Homo sapiens: one gene and its partners. The protein of the gene in region 3 purifies or fractionates together with the protein of the main gene of each other region. This does not show direct contact. Each region holds a gene or a part of one and is shown on either strand. Other genes may lie near its edges. The genes, in order: FLNB, SLK and MAP4.

The links.
Region 1: the proteins of MAP4 (region 3) and FLNB fractionate together in Homo sapiens (co-fractionation; 2 studies listed by BioGRID). This does not show direct contact.
Region 2: the proteins of MAP4 (region 3) and SLK fractionate together in Homo sapiens (co-fractionation; 2 studies listed by BioGRID). This does not show direct contact.

What each region holds. Positions count from the first base shown.
Region 1 is NC_000003.12:58,165,340-58,172,446, reverse strand, and holds the end of FLNB (filamin-B), read right to left. Parts: exon of another isoform or gene 6,332-7,107; intron 4,008-6,331; coding exon 3,789-4,007; intron 2,858-3,788; coding exon 2,654-2,857; intron 1,951-2,653; exon of another isoform or gene 1,873-1,950; coding exon 1,685-1,872; 3' UTR 671-1,684; coding exon of another isoform or gene 574-670; 3' UTR 377-573; coding exon of another isoform or gene 286-376; 3' UTR 196-285; downstream 1-195. Other genes in the region: uncharacterized protein LOC124909485, read right to left, coding at 286-376, 574-670. UniProt on the Homo sapiens protein: Connects cell membrane constituents to the actin cytoskeleton. May promote orthogonal branching of actin filaments and links actin filaments to membrane glycoproteins. Anchors various transmembrane proteins to the actin cytoskeleton.
Region 2 is NC_000010.11:103,998,120-104,005,226, forward strand, and holds part of SLK (STE20-like serine/threonine-protein kinase), read left to right. Parts: intron 1-779; coding exon 780-852; intron 853-999; coding exon 1,000-1,194; intron 1,195-1,747; coding exon 1,748-1,829; intron 1,830-3,324; coding exon 3,325-3,453; intron 3,454-4,052; coding exon 4,053-5,408; intron 5,409-7,107. UniProt on the Homo sapiens protein: Mediates apoptosis and actin stress fiber dissolution.
Region 3 is NC_000003.12:47,852,417-47,859,523, reverse strand, and holds part of MAP4 (microtubule-associated protein 4), read left to right. Parts: intron 1-2,011; coding exon 2,012-2,093; intron 2,094-4,163; coding exon 4,164-4,276; intron 4,277-6,171; coding exon 6,172-6,361; intron 6,362-6,466; coding exon of another isoform or gene 6,467-6,492; exon of another isoform or gene 6,493-6,585; coding exon 6,586-6,590; coding exon of another isoform or gene 6,591-6,732; 3' UTR 6,733-7,107. UniProt on the Homo sapiens protein: Non-neuronal microtubule-associated protein. Promotes microtubule assembly.

The DNA of each region.
Region 1 (7,107 bases), about 10 Mb from region 3:
GGCCTCTCAGGCTCAAGCAATCCTCCTGCCTCCGCCTCCTGAGTAGCTGGGACTGCAGGCATGCATCACCATGCTGGCTAATTTTTTAATTTTTTGTAGAGGCTGGGTCTTGCTGTTACCCAGGCTGAGGGTGTTGAACTCCTAGGATTAAACAATTTATTCAGAAGCGACATCATCCAAGAACACCAAGGCAACTTTACGGAGCAAATGTTTTATTTAATAAGTTATAAGATACAATTTACAGTCGGCGTTTGATTCCAGTTTGGCTTCCGTGTCCCAGCTTACAACACCCGTGGTCCTTTCACATCAGGCTCCGGGCTGTTCCACTTTCTGTAGGGTGGGCTTTTACCCCCAACACTCGCCCCAGATACTACACCTGCCACAAGAGTGGCCACTTCCTCAGGACTAAGCAGCAAAACCTAAAGGTCTGCCTGCCCAGACCACACTACACATTTGGGCTCAGGCAACGTCCCTGACACTTTAACCTCATTCCAAAGCCAGCTCAGGTCTGCAGGAAGGCAGGCAAAATTCCCTACACCTCATTTCTGGATTTCTGCACCACACAGCTCTCACTGTTTCTGCCAATGGTGAAAAGACCACCAATAAGCTGCTGCCCTTCTCTCCCCCAACCATTCCCAACTTTCAGGCCAAAGACCCGCAGGAGTTTCATTCTGTCCTGTCTGTACAGATCATTATTTTCCAGAAAAAGTGACCCATGAAGTTGGCTGGGGCGGGTGTGGAGTGTTATGTCATGGGACGGACCTTGGGATGAGGGCGTTAATCCATGGGCCCCTCTGAGATCACTTTAAACATTTTGGTAAGACTGCCCAGGCTGATGAAGGGCTGGAGCGTGTGTTAAAAACAAGGGCTAGTGTTGGTTAAAAGGGATCTTTGGCAAGTGGGAAACTGCTCGCCACTGCAGAATTTCTTCAGACCAAGGAAGGGACTGAAACGGACTTGGAAAACTAAAGCAAAACCATGACTGCCGGGATGGTCTCGTGTGGTGATTCTGCAAGAAATAATCACCAGAGCGAGGGGACAGGTACTTGAGAGACATGTGGGCCTGGCTGCCACTCTGCCCTCTGAGTTTCTGTAGGGTGCCCGGCTGCCACTCTGCCCTCTGAGAAGTGTAAGAAGGCCACAGAGCATGGGGGTGTTGGCGATGAGGAGCGGTAAAGCAGTGCTAGTGATCTAATAGCCAAATACATTAACACGGACACTGGAAGAGATTAAGCGGATTTTAAGTCATCTCCTTTGCCAAATGACAACCAAACTAGGTGTCCCCTTTTTCTCTGCCCATCTTCCCCTAGCCTTGTTTCATAAATGCTGAAGAGTGAACCAGCAGCTCAGGCTAGCCAGTTTTGTTTTTTTGAAATGTCAGTCTCATTGTGTTCCTGGTCTGTCTGCTGCAGTGGCTGGTCTGTTCCACCAAGAGTTCTGGTTTGCACCTAGTGTACTCAGGATCTTCTCAGCCCCCTGAACAAGCTTGCATTTCTTAAGATTCTCCAATATGTCCCTCAAGAGTCCAGTCTAGGACTTATTTCTGAAGGCATTTTACAACAGCAATATTTTAGGGATGGGGTTTCAGCCCCACAAACAGGCTGGAGGGCTTTGTATAAAATGAATTACAAACAAGCAACAAAAGCAACCACAAGAACTCTCTCCAGGATTTGAGAAAACTGTTTTAAGGCACTGTGACATGAAAAGGGCTGCCAGGGATGTGTTCCTCCCCCCACTTCACAGCCAGCACATAATCGCCCCTCTCCTTGACGACGTATGTGACGTTGTATTGCTGGTTGCCTACATGCTTCATGGAGACCTCCTCGCAGGGGGTGGTGGGCCCATGGACCCCGATCAGCAGCATGTTGGAGCCTAGGAGGCAAAAGGTGGTTACTCCACCCGGATGCATCAGGACAGGCACAGGAAGAAGAGGAAATATGAGAGCCAAAGGTAAGGTGCTTCCACGATAATGCTGGGGCCCCTAAGAGGTGGGAGAGCGTGGCAATTACAAGCAGAGGCTCATAGAGCCTGACGGTGTGGGTTCGAATCCCTGCCCTGCCACTTGCTACCTGGGTGACCTTGGACTGGAATCTCACCTCTCCCTAGCTCAGCTTCCCCATCTGTAAACAGGGAATGAGAACAGCACATACCTCACGAACTAGTTGTGAGGTTTAAGAGTTATGGGTGTCAAAACCTAGCACACAGTAAGGGCTATTCTAAGTGTTGGCTATGAGAATCTTCTTGTTTACTCTCACAAGCACCTTAAGGAAGGTACTTCCGAGAAGAGGAAACTGACTTTTGGAAAGAGATTTAATAACTTTCCAAGGTCACATGGCTAAATAAGTTTTAGAACAAACGAATGAATGAATGAAGTGGCGGTACTAGGTTTCCAGCCCAGGTGTACTGGATGCCAGAACCCAGGCAACCGACCCTTGAAACCCAAATAAATACCCAAGTTCAAAAGGCAAAAGAGAAGGAAATCATTTAAAAATATTAAGTGCAGGAGAACAGGGTCATGACGATGGTTACTTGCAAACGGCTGGCCTACATGGGGGTGGGCACTGCAGGAGACCTCAGCAGGGAAGGCCAGTGTACCCAGGGTGCCCAGCCTGCCCCTGCCCCACCCCACCCTTGAAAAGGCCCAGACACCTACCAGCTTTGCTGCAGTCCACCAGGAAGGAACTCTTCTGGCCCACAAAGGCCTTTGAGAGCCCTGCCCCCTTAGAGGTCACCTTGCTGGCGTCCGAGGATGCCTTGGGAATGGCGCTATAGCAGGTCTCTGTAGACGACCTGGTCACTGACTCCACCAGGATGGATGAGGTCTCGTTGGCTGAGCCAGGGCTAACTAGACGCTGGCCTAAGATACAGGAGGGAGGGGGACAGGCATGAATGGCCAGATCAAGAGGGGTCTCTCAGCCAGAGGACAGGCGAGTACCCTACACAGTAACCCCAGGAGAGCCCGCGCACCCCAACACAAAAGCCACCACACCTGTATCTCACACCCATAATGTCTTCTAAACCCCTAGGATCCCACCCCCATACAACTAGGATCTGGCTTTCTGGGCAAATGGATGAGTCTGGCCTTGGCTGACAAGGCCAAGGACCCTCCCAATCCCCCCACCCCCTACCCACCAAAGATGTGCCTGTGGAATTCACATCTTTCTATTGACATAAAATAGTCTATGTATAAGCAGTGTAAAAGTTTGGGATGACATATAATGAAATATCAAAAAATGATTCTGTGGATGAGAAAGGATGATTTTTCTATCTGAATTTTCTAATTTTCCTGCGATGAACCTACATTCTTTATGTAACAGTGAATCATGACGTGTGGAAGGGATTTACTACAGTGTTTATGGTGGTTACCTTGGGTGGTGGCTGTGAAGTGGTTTTCATAGTTTGGTATTTTTTCCAGTGTTTTGGAGGAGACACATTTTTATAAGTATAGGAAAACTTTTTGATTATTTTTCAAGTGAAAATTAGAAATCAGGGGATTTTTCAGACCCTGATCTAAACAAATACGTAAGATTTCAATATGTATTCTTTCCTGTTAGAGATAGAAAACCACCTAACATCCTAACATGCTTTCTCAACTTCTGCACGGCTCCACTCTGTGGACTTTTGTAAGTTTCAAACACTGCCCTCTGACATCTCATACTATTTACTGACATTCAAAGTTCAAAGTAGCTTTAACACATCTAAAACCATCCATAGTTTCCACTATGATTGATCTGACACAACCAGCTCCCCAGGAAGGGAGAGTAACTCCGAAGGTGGTTGTTCGTTACCTGTCACCTTGGCCTTGAAGGGACTGCCCACGATGTGGTTGGGCCCACCGTATTTGACGCTGATCAGGTAGTTACCAGGAGCCATGGGGGTGTACATGACTTTGTACCCTTCAGGTGTTTCCTGGCAATCCATTTTAACCTTGGATGGGCCTTCGATGGTGACGGATAATGTCCCTGGACCTGCTCGGGTGGTGTTAATAAAGAATTCCGACTGGATACCTGGGAGAAAGGAATAGAAAATGCTGTGTTGATGACTTGGAGGGCTTTCCTGGGAGCACTGAGGCCGTGGTGAGGGACACACATAGATCCCCTTACAGAGGGCTCACCCTGGTGGCATGGGAACCCACTGGCACTAGCTCTGAACTTCTGGCAGAGAGAACCTCAGGCCCTGCGGGGTGGGGGCTCCCTTTTCTAGGCCAAGGCAGGAGGAGCATGGCTGACATTTCGCCCACAAGCACCAACAGCCTGGACACCCTGTTCTCTCCTCTGGGCATGAGCCATTGTGGCTGAGGGCAAGAAGCCTGAGTCACACTGTGAGCCTGAAGTGCTGCTTCAGCCACCAGAGTCCAGCTCTCCCTCCAGGGGTGTGGGGGAGGCGTGGGCCCCTCTGACTGTCCTTTCTTCTCCGGGTAGACTTGGAGAAGCCAGGGAGGCCAAGCATCTCCTCCCTTCCTCCTCAGCCCTCACCCCAGGCACTGTGCTGCAGACCGGGTGCAGCCACTGTGACCTGCCAGCCCACCCACTTTGCCGTGAATTCCAGCAACAAGCACAGGAACAGAACAGCAGCTCCCGCTGACGGGGCATGCGTACCCCACTCCGGCTCCAGGTCCTGTGCACAGCACCATTTACGCATGTGGTATGGAATCCTTTCCGTGATTCCTGCTTCACAAATGACTCTGCGGCTCAGGGAGGGGGCCAGTCACGCTACACAACCAGAAAGTGGTAGAGCCGGGTTTGAACCATGTCTGCATGGCTCTGGTGCCAGGCTCATCTCTTGACCCCTGGATGGGCAGTGGAGCTGCCTCAGATCCCCTAACTGCAGCCCTGAGACAACTTAGCTGGCCCAGGGAGAGCCTCCTTCAGTCATCAGGTCTGGCGCATGCCTGCTACAGTGCCCTCTATGGGGCATGCCTGGCATAGCATCCCCATGCAGGGCTATGCTTCTGCCAGAGCCCTAGACACTGCCCCAGCTGGGAAATATTTTGGTTTAATTATAGCTCCTAGTCCAGAGAAAGAATTATTGTTCTGGATATCAATAAAAACAAAAGAGCTGCTATCGTGCAACTCTCAAACACAACCCAGCTGTTCCTGGAAGCTCTTGAGGCTCCTGCCCCAAGGTCCACCCCCAACACTATCTCAACCTCATCATGGTATCTAATCTGTGCAGCCAAGAAGCCCCTCAAGCAGCAGCTCTGAGGCCTGGGGCTACGTAGGGAAGAAGCGGGAGGTGAGCAACAAGGAGACAGTGTGTCCATCCAGGAAGCAGCTGTAAGGTGATGATAAGGAAAGATATTTTATTGATTGATTGATTGAGATAGAGTCTCGCTCTGTTGCCCAGGCTGGAGTGCAGTACCATGATCTTGGCTTATTGCAACCTCCGCCTCCCAGGTTCAAGCGATTCTCCTGCTTCAGCTTCCTGATTAGCTGGGATTACAGGCACTCGCCACCATGCCCAGCTAATTTTTGTATTTCTTTAGTAGAGATGGGGTCTCACCATGTTGGCCAGGCTGGTCTTGAGCTCCTGACCTCAAGTGATCTGCCCACCTTGGTCTCCCAAAGTGCTAGGATTACAGGCATGAGCCAACGCACCCGGCCTTATTACTAATATTTTTTTTTTTAGATAAAGTCTTCCTCTGTTGCCCAGGCTGGAGTACGGTGGCATGATCACAGCTCACCACAGCGTCAATCTTCCAGGCTCAAGCCATCCTCCTGCCTCAGCCTCCAAAGTAGCTGGGACTTCAGGCATGCACCACCACGCCTGGCTAATTTTTAAATTTTTTTGTAGAGATGGGGTTTTGCTGTGTTGCCTGGGCTGGTCTCAAACTCCTAGGCTCAAGTGATCCTCCCACCTCCACCTCCCAAAGTGCTGGGATTACAGGTGTGAGCCACTGTGCCAGGCCAAAAAGATATTTTTAAAGTGAAGTTGAAATGATGTGGCTGCAGGGGAAAGTTCCACCATTTTTTAACAAGCTGTTTCATTCCTAAGTTCGTCTTTAAAAATTTTTTTTTTTGGTAGAGATGGAGTTTTACTATGTCACCCAGGCTGGTCTCAAACTCTTGGCCTCAAACAATCTTTCTGCCTTGGCCTTCCAAAGTGCTTTGATTACAGGCATGAGCCACCGCACCCATTTGGCCCTAATGCAATATTTTGACCAACCAAAAATCAGTTCATCTTGACTGTGAGGGCCCAAAAGGGCAGGGAAGACGAGGTGGGAAAAGAGAAAGCAGGGGTTATGGGACAAGAGCTACTACTTGGCTGTTACCTCCTCTACAGCTCCAAACAAGCCTATTAGGTGGGTCCTGTTATTAATCCTGTTTTACAGGAAAGGAAGCAGAGGCACAGTGAAGTCAGATAATTCATCTGGAGTCACACAGCTGGGGACCAGCAGAACTGGGATTTAAACATAAAGTCTGTCCAACTTGGAGCTAAAGCACTTACCTGAGAGAAGATGGAAGGAAAAAAATCCACAAGCAGAAGTCTCTCACCACTGCCTCTAGCTATAACCTGTATCTGACACCACAAAACATCTCTGGGCGTGGCGGTCTTCCCCCACCCCCTCAAATATGTCCAGCTCAGTTCCTGTGAGTTTAATGCATGTTAAACGCAGCACTGCTTGTTCTTCAAGGCAGTTAAGGAAGGAGGCCCTTCTGGTATACCCCGAGCACACTGGGGTTCCTGGACCATTTCATTAGGAAAATTGCTCAGCGGCTCCAAAGAATCTGGAGCTCCCTGGTCTATCTCCCAGCCTCTCAAGCCGCCTCCAGCAGGGTCCCGCCCCAAATTCTCCACATTCCCCTACTCCAAAATCTACAGAATGGACCATTTAAAGCTTGAGCCAAGAGATACAGCAAACTCACCCATTAAAAACAGAGGGAGGTTTGCTTTGTTCAGAAGGTCAGGATACTGGGCGCTCTGGCGGCCAAGCACAGATACCTTTTCATTCCATGCACACTGCAGCTGTGTAATCTCAGAATGGATATTTAGGGAAAGGCTTGGGAGCAGGAGGGCTGGAAAAACAAGGCGCCTTCCCTGTGACAAGAGCAATATTTACACAGGGTTTGAAGCAGGCGGTTCTGTACCTCTCCCCTCCTGGCTAGG
Region 2 (7,107 bases), on a different chromosome or scaffold from region 3:
AGTTCTACAACAAAAACAACAAAGGTTAGAATTGTGAATATGGCTAATAATAGCTACCATTTATTGAGTGTATACTCTGTGGTAGGCATGAGCATCAAATACTGAATTTTTGGTACTTATTCAACTTTGAGAATTGTCGCATCAAATGTGAAACTTAAAAATTCGTGCATTTATAGCATGAGGTGAATTATGCAGCAATAGCAGTTTTATGTTGCTGTTAATGTTGTGTGAACTCCAGGCTGAAAAGGTGGGATTAACAACTGAAAAAGCTATAATGTTACTGTTCTGTATAATTTAAATCAGAAAACATAAGGTTCCCAATTTTTTCTTGACAATATAATTTTATGAGGAATTTAGCAAGACATACACTGTCCTAAAGGTTGCTTTAGTATAATTTCTATTTTTCACACTATAGAAAAAATGTTAATGACTCTTAGTTTAATTGTGCCACATAGCACTAGTTGGCATTTATTTTGAAGTGGATAGACTGGTCTGCTTTTAGAGTTACCATTTTTTATTTTCAATTTTGGAGGATTTGTCATCTGAAGATAAGGTGGTATTAAATGTATTGATAATGGGATCTTTAGCAGGTTTTTTTGGGAGATGGTAGAAAGAGATGGTCAAGATTAAGATGGGAGAGACATCTTTTTCTTTCTGTTTAACTTACTTTTTATAATAAGATTAGCCTTATTAAAGACTTAAAATGCTTTTTCTCCCCATTGAATACAATGAACAATGCTTAAAAGTTCTCATTAATGCTTTTGTGTGATTATTTCAAGCGGATTTTGGAGTATCAGCTAAAAACACGAGGACAATTCAAAGAAGAGATTCCTTTATTGGTACACCATATTGGTATGTATTCAGTTTTATGAATTTATAGTATTAGTCATGTCAGCAGTTATAATTACTCATGAATTTTTGTCCACATAATTGATTATACCATGTGTTTTGCAATCACTGTTCTTAAACATGTTAACTTTTAATTATCTGTCTTCATAGGATGGCTCCTGAAGTAGTCATGTGTGAAACATCTAAGGACAGACCCTATGACTACAAAGCTGATGTTTGGTCCCTGGGTATCACTTTAATAGAAATGGCTGAGATAGAACCACCTCATCATGAATTAAATCCAATGCGAGTGCTGCTAAAAATAGCAAAATCTGAGCCACCTACATTAGCACAGCCATCCAGATGGTAAAAATATTCTTAAAAAAGCTTAATAAGAAACAAATGATACTAGGAAGCAGAACTTGATGTTATATTCTCACAATTTTCCAAGAGTATTTAAAATTGGATACATGGTTCGAAGACTATATGAATTAGAAAAGTGATTTTTGGTATATTTCTCTTAAAGACCATTAAAACTCTTCGAGCTCACTTTTCCCATATATCTGAAAATATGAATGATTTGAGTTTTGCATGAGAAAGGTATTTTCTGTACTATGAGGAAGTGAGGTATATAGATTGATCTATATTTGTGAAATTTATTAGAAATTTTGTGCTTTTTGGCATACTTGTGAGTATATGGCTGTCTCAGTGATTATGTACCTACTTACATATATGTCTAACATGTATTTACAGATGAATAAGTTTTACAAAATCTTAATAGTCTCATTAACTAGTTATTTAAATGTTGAATTAATACTATTACATACATAATGAAACTTAAGCATAACTTATCAAAGAGTTTTGTTTAATTTGATTAACAAGAAAGTAAAATAGAATGTTGTTAAAATTTATTTTAAAGGTCTTCAAATTTTAAGGACTTTCTAAAGAAATGCTTAGAAAAGAATGTGGATGCCAGGTGGACTACATCTCAGCTGCTGCAGGTAAGAGAGTATGACAACAGCAAATAATATAATTATTTTAACATCTAAGAATGTAATTTCATATTCAGTGTGCTTTCTTTCCACTTAAATTTCCCTGTGGAGAGTCAAAATGGCAGTAGTTAACATTTGCTTTACAAAATAAATGCTGCTGTTACCATCAGGCATTTAGCTTAAACGTTATTCCTCCTGTGCTTTTTTGATTCAGTTTAATTATGTTCTTTTCATTTTGGTAGTTATTTCCATTATGTCTCTCCAGTTACTAGAAAGCAAGCTCCTTGGGGACAGGGGCCGTGAACTAATTAATTAAAAAATGTCTTACAGTGAGGGTAAATAGTAAATATTGTTGACTTAAAAAAATGTTGTTAAAGCGATTGGGTAAATTTAATTTTGCTTTATAGAAGGACTACTTGTAATATATTAATTAAAAATTGTCAATTTTATAGGTGGGCAAATAAAATGACAAATCTTGAGGCAATTACTGTTAGGTTATTATGTAACTCCATCATAGTGTTTTAGGTTGACCTATTTATCTGGGGGAATAAAGCAGGAAAAAATTGCTTTGTTGTGTGCAGCAAGTATACCCCTGGAACACACTTTCTATTATTATTTTGTTACCCCCACACTTGAAGCCCTTAGTCTGCGACAGACACTGTTAAATGTTGAGTATACAAAGATGAGTAAAATGGCTTCTCATTCTCAAGAATTTTAGAACCATGTCAAAAATACAGGTGTTTATAGATACTTCTAACAGAATTCTAAAGCTTTTTATAATTTTGAGGCTTTGATAGGGTTTATAGAGATGGTTACTTTTTAAGAAGTAATAATGAGGCCAGGTGTAGTGGCTCATGCCTGTAATCCCAGCACTTTGGGAGGCCGAGGCGGGTGGATCACCTGAGGTCAGGAGTTCCAGACCAGCCTGGCCAATATAGTGAAACCCTGTCTCTACTAAAAATACAAAAAATCAGCCGGGCATGGTGGCACATGCCTGTAATCTTAGCTACTCGGGAGGCTGAGGCAGGAGAATCTCTTGAACCTGGGAGATGGAGATTGCAGTAAGTTGAAATCGTGCCACTGCCTTCTAGCCTGAGTGATAGAGTGAGACTCCGTCTCAAAAAAAAAAAAAAAAAAAAAAAAAAAAGTAATAATGTAGTGACCTGACATTTGCTTTAAATTTCAATTAAAATTTTTTATTACGAAGTTTTCAAACACACAGAAAGTACATGTACCTACTACCCAGATATAACAATTCTTATCATTTTTGATAAATTTGCTTCAGATTCTTAAAAATGTACAGATCCAGTTGCAGGTAGTCCCTGCTTTTGCTCAAGCCCTCTCCCCTCTTTCTTTCTCAGATGTAGCATTATCTGAAGTTTTCTGTCATTTTCCTGCCCACATGTTCATATTTTTTACCACATAAGAATGTGTGTTGTGTGTGTTTGAAACTTAGTTTAGTAGTATTCCAGTTGTTGAGTATGTTCTTTTTAATGATCAACAGCATCCCTTTGTTACTGTTGATTCCAACAAACCCATCCGAGAATTGATTGCAGAGGCGAAGGCTGAAGTAACAGAAGAAGTTGAAGATGGCAAAGAGGAAGATGAAGAGGAGGAAACAGAAAATTCTCTGGTCAGTATTTAGGAAAGAAATTTCATTTAGTGAATAGAGTTCGGTTTTGAGGTGTAGTTGCTCCTGTATCTAAGGATTGATGGGTGGCAACGCAAAACCTTTAAATTTAGACCTGAAGATTAGTAGCAAGGTTGCTCGTCGCTGCACATTTTTGTTATATTTCCCTTTTTTTTGAGATGGAGTCTCACTCTGTCACCCAGGTTGGAGTGCAGTGGTCACTACAACCTCTGCCTCCCGGTGTCAGGTGGTTCTTGGGCCTCAGCCTCCCGAGTAGCTGGGACTACAGGCATGCGCCACCACACCCAACTAATTTTTGTATTTTTAGTAGAGATGGGGTTTCACCATGTTGGCCAGGCTAGTCTCGAACTCCTGACCTCAAGTGATCTTCCCTCCTCGGTCTCCCAAAGTGCTGGGATTACAGGTGTGTGCCACCGCACCCGGCCCATTTTTGTTATATTTCTTGTGAGAAGAATTGTTAATTCTTTAAATTCAGCAACATTTACTGAATAAAGATCTGAAATCACTGTAGGTCTGTAAACATTGTTTTGGTCACTCTAAGGTCATGTTTTAACACTAAAAATACATTAAATCTTTTTTAGCCAATACCTGCAAGTAAGCGTGCATCTTCTGACCTTAGTATCGCCAGCTCTGAAGAAGATAAACTTTCACAAAATGCTTGTATTTTGGAGTCTGTCTCAGAAAAAACAGAACGTAGTAACTCTGAAGATAAACTCAACAGCAAAATTCTTAATGAAAAACCCACCACTGATGAACCTGAAAAGGCTGTGGAGGATATTAATGAACATATTACCGATGCTCAGTTAGAAGCAATGACTGAACTCCATGACAGAACAGCAGTAATCAAGGAGAATGAAAGAGAGAAGAGGCCCAAGCTTGAAAATCTGCCTGACACAGAAGACCAAGAAACTGTGGACATTAATTCAGTCAGTGAAGGAAAAGAGAATAATATAATGATAACCTTAGAAACAAATATTGAACATAATCTAAAATCTGAGGAAGAAAAGGATCAGGAAAAGCAACAGATGTTTGAAAATAAGCTTATAAAATCTGAAGAAATTAAAGATACTATTTTGCAAACAGTAGATTTAGTTTCTCAAGAGACTGGAGAAAAAGAGGCAAATATTCAGGCAGTTGATAGTGAAGTTGGGCTTACAAAGGAAGACACCCAAGAGAAATTGGGGGAAGACGACAAAACTCAAAAAGATGTGATCAGCAATACAAGTGATGTGATAGGAACATGTGAGGCAGCAGATGTGGCTCAGAAAGTGGATGAAGACAGTGCTGAGGATACGCAGAGTAATGATGGGAAAGAAGTGGTCGAAGTAGGCCAGAAATTAATTAATAAGCCCATGGTGGGTCCTGAGGCTGGTGGTACTAAGGAAGTTCCTATTAAAGAAATAGTTGAAATGAATGAAATAGAAGAAGGTAAAAATAAGGAACAAGCAATAAACAGTTCAGAGAACATAATGGACATCAATGAGGAACCAGGAACAACTGAAGGTGAAGAAATCACTGAGTCAAGTAGCACTGAAGAAATGGAGGTCAGAAGTGTGGTGGCTGATACTGACCAAAAGGCTTTAGGAAGTGAAGTTCAGGATGCTTCTAAAGTCACTACTCAGATAGATAAAGAGAAAAAAGAAATTCCAGTGTCAATTAAAAAAGAGCCTGAAGTTACTGTAGTTTCACAGCCCACTGAACCTCAGCCTGTTCTAATACCCAGTATTAATATCAACTCTGACAGTGGAGAAAATAAAGAAGAAATAGGTTCTTTATCAAAAACTGAAACTATTCTGCCACCAGAATCTGAGAATCCAAAGGAAAATGATAATGATTCAGGCACTGGTTCCACTGCTGATACTAGCAGTATTGACTTGAATTTATCCATCTCTAGCTTTCTAAGTAAAACTAAAGACAGTGGATCGATATCTTTACAAGTAAGTGTACATGAGTCATTGTTTGGGTTTTCCTTTGCCATTTTCTCAATTCAGAGTTTATGTGAAATTGATGTCTTGAAAATAAAACAGCATTAAATTAATGTAGTATTAACAATATAAATTCTTACAGCCTATGAAAGCAATTAAAAAGAACTAAGGAGATTGTGGATCTAATCTTTAAATTTTGTGGTAGGATCTACCTATTTTTGCAGACCTGATGCAGATAAACAGTGTAATATGGTTGCTTGGTGTGATTAGGTTCCTTTATTGGACATATCTAGATGCAACATTAGCAAGAATCAACAATGTATGAGAGAATTAGAAATTGAAAGAATGATGTCTTTTTAAGCACATTTAGGGTGTAAACAATCCTTGATTTACCATTGGCCCATACAGTCACAGACATTGCTACTGCCATGAGAACCATTGTGGGGAAAACAAAACAAACACTAAAGCCCAGAACACTTGGAGCTTTGAGTGTAATTCTCAAATTTTAGTGTGCTTAGGAGTTACTAGCGGCTATGTAGAAGTCTGGAGTGGGTCCCAAGGATCACTATTTGTAAAAAAAAAAGATCCCACAGAGTTCTGATGCAGGTGATCCATGGGCTGCCCCTTGGAAAATACTTCCTAGACCCTCTGGGTTGATAGTAGCAGAAGAGAAGACAGAAAAGCAGGAACAACCTAAGAAAACTGACATAGATGGATCTCTAGGGCATGAGTGATTAGTCTGCCTATCTGCCCCAAATTCCTAGGATTTTCTTACATGTATTCCTAGGATTTTCTTCTTTTTTCAGTTTACTTTCTTTCACTGACTGAAATAACCACCACTCTGAAATTCATTCACTGACTTAATAGCCTCTTTTAAAAATGCAAATAACTTGTATAAGAATGAAGAAGATATTAATTATTGAACTTTTAGTAGGAGCTGAAGAAATGTGAAGTTTGGAGGTTAAGGTGTAGATAGGTGTATTTTTTGGAGTCTGCCAACTTTAGATTTTAGAGGAATCCTGGGTAGGGTACCATAGTCCTGGACTTTGGAAGAAGAGCATGAGGATCCTGGAAGCTTGGAGAAGAGAACAGTAAGAGGAGAGGATGCAGAAAGGTGATTGGAAGGTGCCAAAGAGAAACTGTTTAAAATTTGGATGCATTTTGAGTTTAGCATTTTCACATTCCATTTTTGCTTCCTCTGCCTTCTAACCCTTTCTTCCATATCAACACCCAGTAAGTATCTGCCCTGAACACTTAGTTTACCAAAATGTATTTGTAGGAGTCTTATATGTCTGTTATTTCTGTTTGCATTTAAATGTTTTTGGATACCAGTTGAGGAATGAAGAGTTTAGTCTTAATAAAGAATTTTAGGTCATAGCTAGCAGCCAAATCTGGTACTTTTGGGTGCAGCAGAGGCACTGTCTTTCTAGTAACCCTAAAATCATACATATATCTCTGGCCCTGAGATGGAGGGAGGGGCTGTCGATATTATTGTTACTGATTAAGTAGATTTTGATCCCCAGTGCTGGCAGTGTTTAAAAATTACCTGAGAGCTTTTTCAAAAAAAAGAGATTTCCAGCTACCCTCAGACCTGTCAATTTAGTTTTTTTTTAAGAGATGAGCCCCACAAATTCATTTTTAATTGTTTTGTCAGTGAAAAAGCAGAGGTATCTGAGAAACTACAAATTGAAAAGATGAAAAAAAAGGATAA
Region 3 (7,107 bases):
GGCATGAGCCAAGTTTTAGAGGAAAGATTGAGAATGGCTCTGGCAAGCTGGGGATTGTGGGTAGTTATTCTGTGCCAGGCCTTGGGCTGTGGGTGCAAATACAAAAATACTGGTGGCATTATATCTGTCCTCTGGAAACATGGTGAAGACTATATTTCCTGACACCAAAGAAGGGAAAACAGGGCTCAAGAAGGTAGCTCACCATTTAACAGCTTGTGGTGAAACCCACCAGAATGGTGCAACACTGCATGGAGTTGATGTGTTGGAAAGTCAGGCTCTCCCACAGTACCTACCAGAGGACAGCGGGGCCGCTCACAGGAATGCTGGAATCCCCATCCAGCAACCCAGAGGGCATGCATGGCTATAGACTTAAAGATGCACCACCTTTTTTTTTTGAGGCGGAGTCTCTTTCTGTTGCCCAGGCTGGAGTGCAGTGGCACGATCTCGGCTCACTGCAAGCTCTGCCTCCCGAGTTCATGCCATTCTCCTGCCTCAGCCTCCCGAGTACTGGGACTACAGGCACCTGCCACCACGCCCGGCTAATTTTTTTTGTATTTTTAGTAGAGACGGGGTTTCACCATGTTAGCCAGGATGGTCTCGATCTCCTGACCTCGTGATCCGCCCGCCTTAGCCTCCCAAAGTGCTGGGATTACAGGCGTGAGCCACCGTGCCCAGCCAAGGTGCACCACCTTTAAATGCAAATTTTTGCATTTTTAGTAGAGATAGAGTTTCACTGTGCTGGCCAGGCTGGTCTCAAACTCCTAGCCACAGGTGATCTGCCTGCCTCAGCCTCCCAAAGTGCTGGGATTACAGGCATGACCCACTGCACCTGGCTGGGAAAATTGTTATAACATGGATTAAGCAGGAATACTATGATTACACACACACACACACACACACACAACGCGCACACACACACACACACACACACACACACCACCCCCTCACCTCTCCCAAGGGGAAAATGCATTGAAAAGGACTAGAAGTAAATATGTTATTCCAGGTTCTCTGGGCAAGGAGTTGATAGGTAAGGATTTGAGATGGAATAAAGGGGATATTTCATGGGAGCCTTGGTGCTGGTGTTTGGACCTGGTGAAATGACAGAAGAGCTGTCTGGAGCATGCATGGACAGGGTCTGCACAGAAAGACCTGTGGGGTGTGGAAATGGTGGTTTGGTCTGGCTGGAGGTGGGGTTAGAAGTGAAGGCTGGTGGCCGGGCGTGGTGGCTCACACCTGTAATTCCAGCACTTTGGGATCCTGAGGCAGGCGGATCACCTGAGGTCAGGAGTTCGAGACCAGCCTGACCAATATGGAGAAACCCTGTCTCTACTAAAAATACAAAATTAGCTGGGCGTGGTGGCGCATGCCTGTAATCCTAGCTACTCCAGAGGCTGAGGCAGAAGAATCACTTGAACCCGGGAGATGGAGGCTGGGGTGAGCCAAGATCGTGCCAGCCTGGGCAACAAGAGTGAAACTCTGTCTTAAAAAAAAAAAAAAAAAAAGTGAAGGCCAGGCGTGGTGGCTCACGCCTGTAATCCCAACACTCTGGGCTCTGGAAATCTGAGGTGGGTGGATCTCCTGAGGTCAGGAGTTCGAGACCAGCCTGGCCAACATGGTGAAACCTTGTCTCTACTAAAAATACAAAAAATTAGCCAGATGTGGTGGTACACGCCTGTAATCCCAGCTACTCGGGAGGCTGAGGCAGGAGAATTGCTTGACCCCAGGAGGCGGAGGTTATAGCGAGCTGAGATCGTACCACTGTACTCCAGCCTGGGCAACAGAGCGAGACTCCATCTTTAAAAAAAAAAAAGGAAGTGAAGAGCAGGGCCAGGGTGGGTCGAGGGCTCTTTTAAGTACTTAGGGAGATGACCTTGTCTTTGACCAGACTGAGATAGCAGCTTACAGAGGGAGCGAGAAACCCTGAACATGGAGAAGATTTAAAAGGTAGCATGGGGTTGGCTCTGACAGTATACCTTCTCTCTGAATGAGTCTTTTGTGTCCTTCTCTTCAGGTTCAGATTCAGAACAAGAAAGTGGACATCTCTAAGGTCTCCTCCAAGTGTGGGTCTAAGGCTAACATCAAGCACAAGCCTGGTGAGTGGTGCCTCCCTTGCCCACTGGGTCTCCAGGGTATGTCGTCCTGCCATGGGTCAGCTGGGCAGCCAGCTGGCTGGCAAGGGTTTCATCTCTGTGCCTTTAGCATCCCATGAAGACTACCCAGGACACCACAGTCCTCATTCTGTCAGGGAGCAGGAGTTCGGGTGCTAACCTCTAAGTGGAGGAGGAGCAGTTTCTTACAGCAGCCATCTGCACAGGCATTCTCTTGAGTACCTACTGTGTGTGTGGAACTATTGAGCTAGGCCTGGGGAAGTGGTGCACTCTGAGCTGAGAACCTGGATTGGCTCTAAACGAGGATTACAGAAGCTACTGCTGAAGGAGCTGTATAGAGGGCAGTGTTCAGGTCCCACCTATCAGATGCAGGAGCAAAGGGTGCTCCCAACCAGTGAAGCATCAGCCGCTAGCCCTGGCAGGAGAATGGGAGGCGTTCAGCAACTTGCACTAATGCAGTTTCCTTCCAGCAACATGGTTGGCCCAGCGCCCCTGTGGAAGTCGCTGTGCGGAGGCTGGGCTCTTGCCTTGGGTAGTCCCCTAGCAGCCTCGTGTCCTAGTTCCTGGGTCTACAGCAGATTTGTGAGTAGGACTGCTGTAGCAGCAGGCACACTGGCTGGCAGACCTGGTATCCCAGAAGGCTAGCCACCACAGGCCAGATAAGGTGAAGGCAAAACTCTCTTCCCTCAGGGCGGGCGCGGTGTCTCATGCCTGTAATCCCAGCACTTTGGGAGGCCAAAGCGGGCGGATCACTTGAGGTCAGGAGTTTGAGAACAGCCTGGCCAACATGGTGAAACCCTGTCTCTACTAAAAATACAAAAACTAGCTAGGTGTGGTGGTGCATGCCTTTGGAGAATTGCTTGAACCCAGGAGGCAGAGACTACAGTGAGGCGAGAGTATGGCACTGCACTCCAGCCTGAGCAACAGAGCGAAATTCTGTCTCCAAAAAGAAAAAAAAAAAACTCCCTTTCCCTCTCAGCGAAGAGCATGATCCAGTTTAGAATGTGTTCTATTTAGAAAGATCAAAACAGTTCTGTCCTTAACTAACCATTTTTTTCCCCTTTTATCTGGGAAATCTCCTATCAGATACTTCCTTCTCTAATGACACTGAGTCACTTAGGGTCTAGTTTTTGCCAGGGCTGGGTTTCCCAATATGGGACACCGGGAGACCTCGGCCAGAAGCTGTGCGTGGAGGTCTGCCATGTGAGCTGAGAGGAGATGGAAGAACAGGAGAAGGGGCCCAAGGGAAACCACGCTGCTGGGCGCGGGAGGGGCTGGGTACTCATTGAGGGCAGCTCGTCCCGCACCCTTCCCCTTGGTCTCATGGGCACACTCTGGCCAGTGAGCTCTGAACCCTGGGCGTGAGTTCAGACCACTTTCCCTCCCCGTCCTAGCCTGAGGTCACTAGATCCCAGGCCTGCCTTGGTCCATGTCTTTCCTTCCTCAGCGCACAGCCTCGGGGCCACTCTGTCCTTTTTATTATTCCTTCTTTTTGCTAGAGTGTGGTACGGTTTAGGGTCTCAGACAATTTTCACAACCTGTCACTGTCAATCAGCAGATTGGTGGTAACTCTGGGTGAGTCCCTTCTCTTTTGCAGCATCAGTTTTACCGGCTGGGAAGCAGGGACCGTGGCCGTGATGACAGGGCATTCATGAGAATTCAGTGAGGCTGTGCCTGAGAAGCACTGCATGGCCCAGTTAGCGGGAGGGCATTCCCACACAGAGTAGAGAAGCAGAGGCTTCGCCCTGGAGGCTGTGCTCGGAGCCCCAGGCCTGCCCAAGCCTGGCCTGCAGCTCAGTGGCTGTGGCATGGGGTGGTGGAAGGGATGGCTTTCCTTTTCTTGGAGGTATTCCCACTGGCTGGACGGAGAGATTGTCTCAGCCTCACTGTGATATGAGAAGTCCTCTTTAGACAAACGTGTTCACTGTTCTTCATTTGCCACCCAGAACAGGTCACGTCTGTCTCATTTCTAGATTGGGCATATCGCTAGTCCTGGTTTTGCCTGCAGGGATATTCCTCTGCCACCCTAGGTGACCAGTTCCTTTGTGGTTCCAGGTGGAGGAGATGTCAAGATTGAAAGTCAGAAGTTGAACTTCAAGGAGAAGGCCCAGGCCAAGGTGGGATCCCTCGATAATGTGGGCCACCTACCTGCAGGAGGTGCTGTGAAGGTAGCGAGTGGGTCACTGGGGAGACACAGCTGGGGAGGGGTGGGAACTATGCAGTTAGGGTCAGGGTCCTCACAGGTAGGCACCTGTCACCGCCCCTCAGTCTCTTCAGGAGTCATGTCTTCACCCACACCATTGCCGTTTTCCCACCGTGTATCATCAGTCCTGACTGAGGCAGAAGTGAAGAGGCCCCAGCCCAGCCACCCCTCACCTGTCAGCTGGAGGCAGAACCTTGCTCCTGAGAGCCATGGCCTTCCTAATTGAGCCCATCCAGCCATTTGAGAAGGCCACGGACTGGGACACAGACCACCCCCAGGCGAGCGGGGGTTCTGCACCACACAGTTCTCCCCAGCTGTCTCGCGCCAAGGGGAATGTGGGTTCCCGCCCCATGTCAGGCTCCGCTCCTGGGTTAGGAGCAGGACAGCACATTCTTAGCTGCCAGCGACAGCAGGCTGCCTGGGGCCTCCCTCTGCAGGGCCTGCCTGGGGCCTCCCTCTGCAGGGCCTGCCTGGGGCCTCCCTCTGCAGGGCTCTGGGACAGAGCTCAAGTGGCAGAGGTTCCCATCCTCACGACTGGCTGGGCCTCTTCTCCCTTCCCTCTCTCCTCTTTCCTCCCTTCCTCCTTCCACAGTACTGTGAGACCTTTTGTGTGCCAAGATGCTGTCTGTCCTATGTTCCATGTCATCCGTGGGTGGGGGGCCCATGAGGGGCATCTTGCAGACCCCGAGCACAAGGATGGCTGCTGCTGCTCGGGTTCAGGTGCGCAGGGGAGAGGGGCCAGGAGCCGCTGCCCTGGGCCTTCCCTTCCATCTCTGCTCCCCAGTGCCAGCCACTGCCCAGCCCGTCCCCTGTCCCATCCTCTCCTGATGCTCTGACTGAAGCCTTGATCAGCTTCCAGGAACATCTGGGGGGGTCCTTGCTGCCACAGGCTCTCAGTTCGTGCCCCCCATACCTCGTGAGGATGCCGTTCTCACGCCCGTCTCAGTGGGGCGTTAACTTGGCTTTAGTCTCTTTTCCAAGGACACAGCGAGCGAGCGTGGACCAGGATTCACATCTGGGCTTTTCTGACCCTAAGCCTTGTGTTCTTTTCCTTGTTCACATTATATCCCTTTATTAGTTCTGGAATTATTGTTTTTAATCGAGGCCTATTTCTCACTATGCCGATTAGAAACCACTTCTCCCTTGTCACTTTTTGGGTATTTGGCGACACACGCTTTCCAGCTCCCCAGTGGCCTCTCGCAGCTGTTCTCTCTTCTCTGCCTTCCTCACACTGAGTGTTCCATGTCCCCCAAATGTCCTCCTCCTATGACGCCCTCCAGGCCTCCACAGTGTCCCTGGGTTATACCTCCTTGGACACCTTTCTGCCTCCCATGGACCCCTGGTCCCAGAATGGTGCCCCGCACAGACAAGGCCTCAGCACCTGTGTTCCTGACCAGACAGATGTGCAGGCAGGGCTGCCCGGGAGCTACTGAGGACCCCACTCTGTGTGCAGGGGGTGGCCTGGGTTCAGGGAGGGTTTGGGAGGGTGGGCTGTACCCTTCAGGGGGCTACCCTTCAGGCTTATTGCTTACTGTTGTCATGGCTACGTCTTTGGTACCAGCCTGAGGCCTGGCACCTCTGCCCTCAGAGAGGCTTCATCAGAGCCTCACATGCCACAGAGGGGCTCTGAGAGTGTGTCACTGGTCCAGCTGCTCCTGACCCTCGGGAGTCGGTCTCCCAGGTGAGGTGGGGTGGGTGGGGCCGGGGCACCTGCCTGGGATTCTCCAAGCGACTGTGCCTTGAGCCAGTGGGTGCCAGGGCAGCAAGGGTGGGGGCTGTGTGTGAAACCCACCACCATCACCCCATCCCACTCCCCCCCTCGACTGACCCTGCACTGTCTCCCCCACTGTTTCATTGTAGACTGAGGGCGGTGGCAGCGAGGCTCCTCTGTGTCCGGGTCCCCCTGCTGGGGAGGAGCCGGCCATCTCTGAGGCAGCGCCTGAAGCTGGCGCCCCCACTTCAGCCAGTGGCCTCAATGGCCACCCCACCCTGTCAGGGGGTGGTGACCAAAGGGAGGCCCAGACCTTGGACAGCCAGATCCAGGAGACAAGTAAGTGGCTGGGCTCGGCCTAAGGGCCAGCCAGGGGCCCTGCCACTGGCCGCAAATTGAAACTCCTTTGTTTTTGACTAGAGTGTGGCCTAAATTTTAATGAAGTAACCTTTTATTTTCCAGGCATCTAATGATGACATTCTGGTCTCGTCTTCCGTCTCCCCCGTGTTCCCCTCTTGTCTCCCCTGTTCCCCTCTCCCTTCCCTCCTCCCATGTCACTGCAGATTGAGACCTACAGGCTGACGTTCCGGGCAAATGCCAGGGCCCGCACCGACCACGGGGCCGACATTGTCTCCCGCCCCCCACACTTCCCTGGCGGCCCCAACTCGGGCTCCCGGGTCCTTGGCCCCCTTTCCCGGGCTGTCCACTAGACCAGTGAGCGCTTGGGCGCCGTGCTGGGCAGCCCGCTAGGCTCGCCTTCCCTCCTGCTTTGCGTGCCCGGGGCAGCAGCAGCCCTGCCCCACACCTCCTCTCACTCCCCAGCCTGGGCCCATCTCCCTGCTTTGGTCTTGCCCCATCACTGCGCCACTGCTCCGTGGAGGAGGTTGGGAGGGGGTTGGGGTGGTTGAGGCTAAGTTGGGATCTAGGAGAGGAGAACCAGATTCTATCCTCATCTTTTTTTGGTTCTTTGGTCCAAACCCAAAAGAAACTGACATGCCCTCCCTTCTCCCTGGATCTACCTGGAGGGAAGAGTGGAGGTGGATTCCGAGTGGTGACAGGACGCTGACCGTGGAGCTTAAGCCACT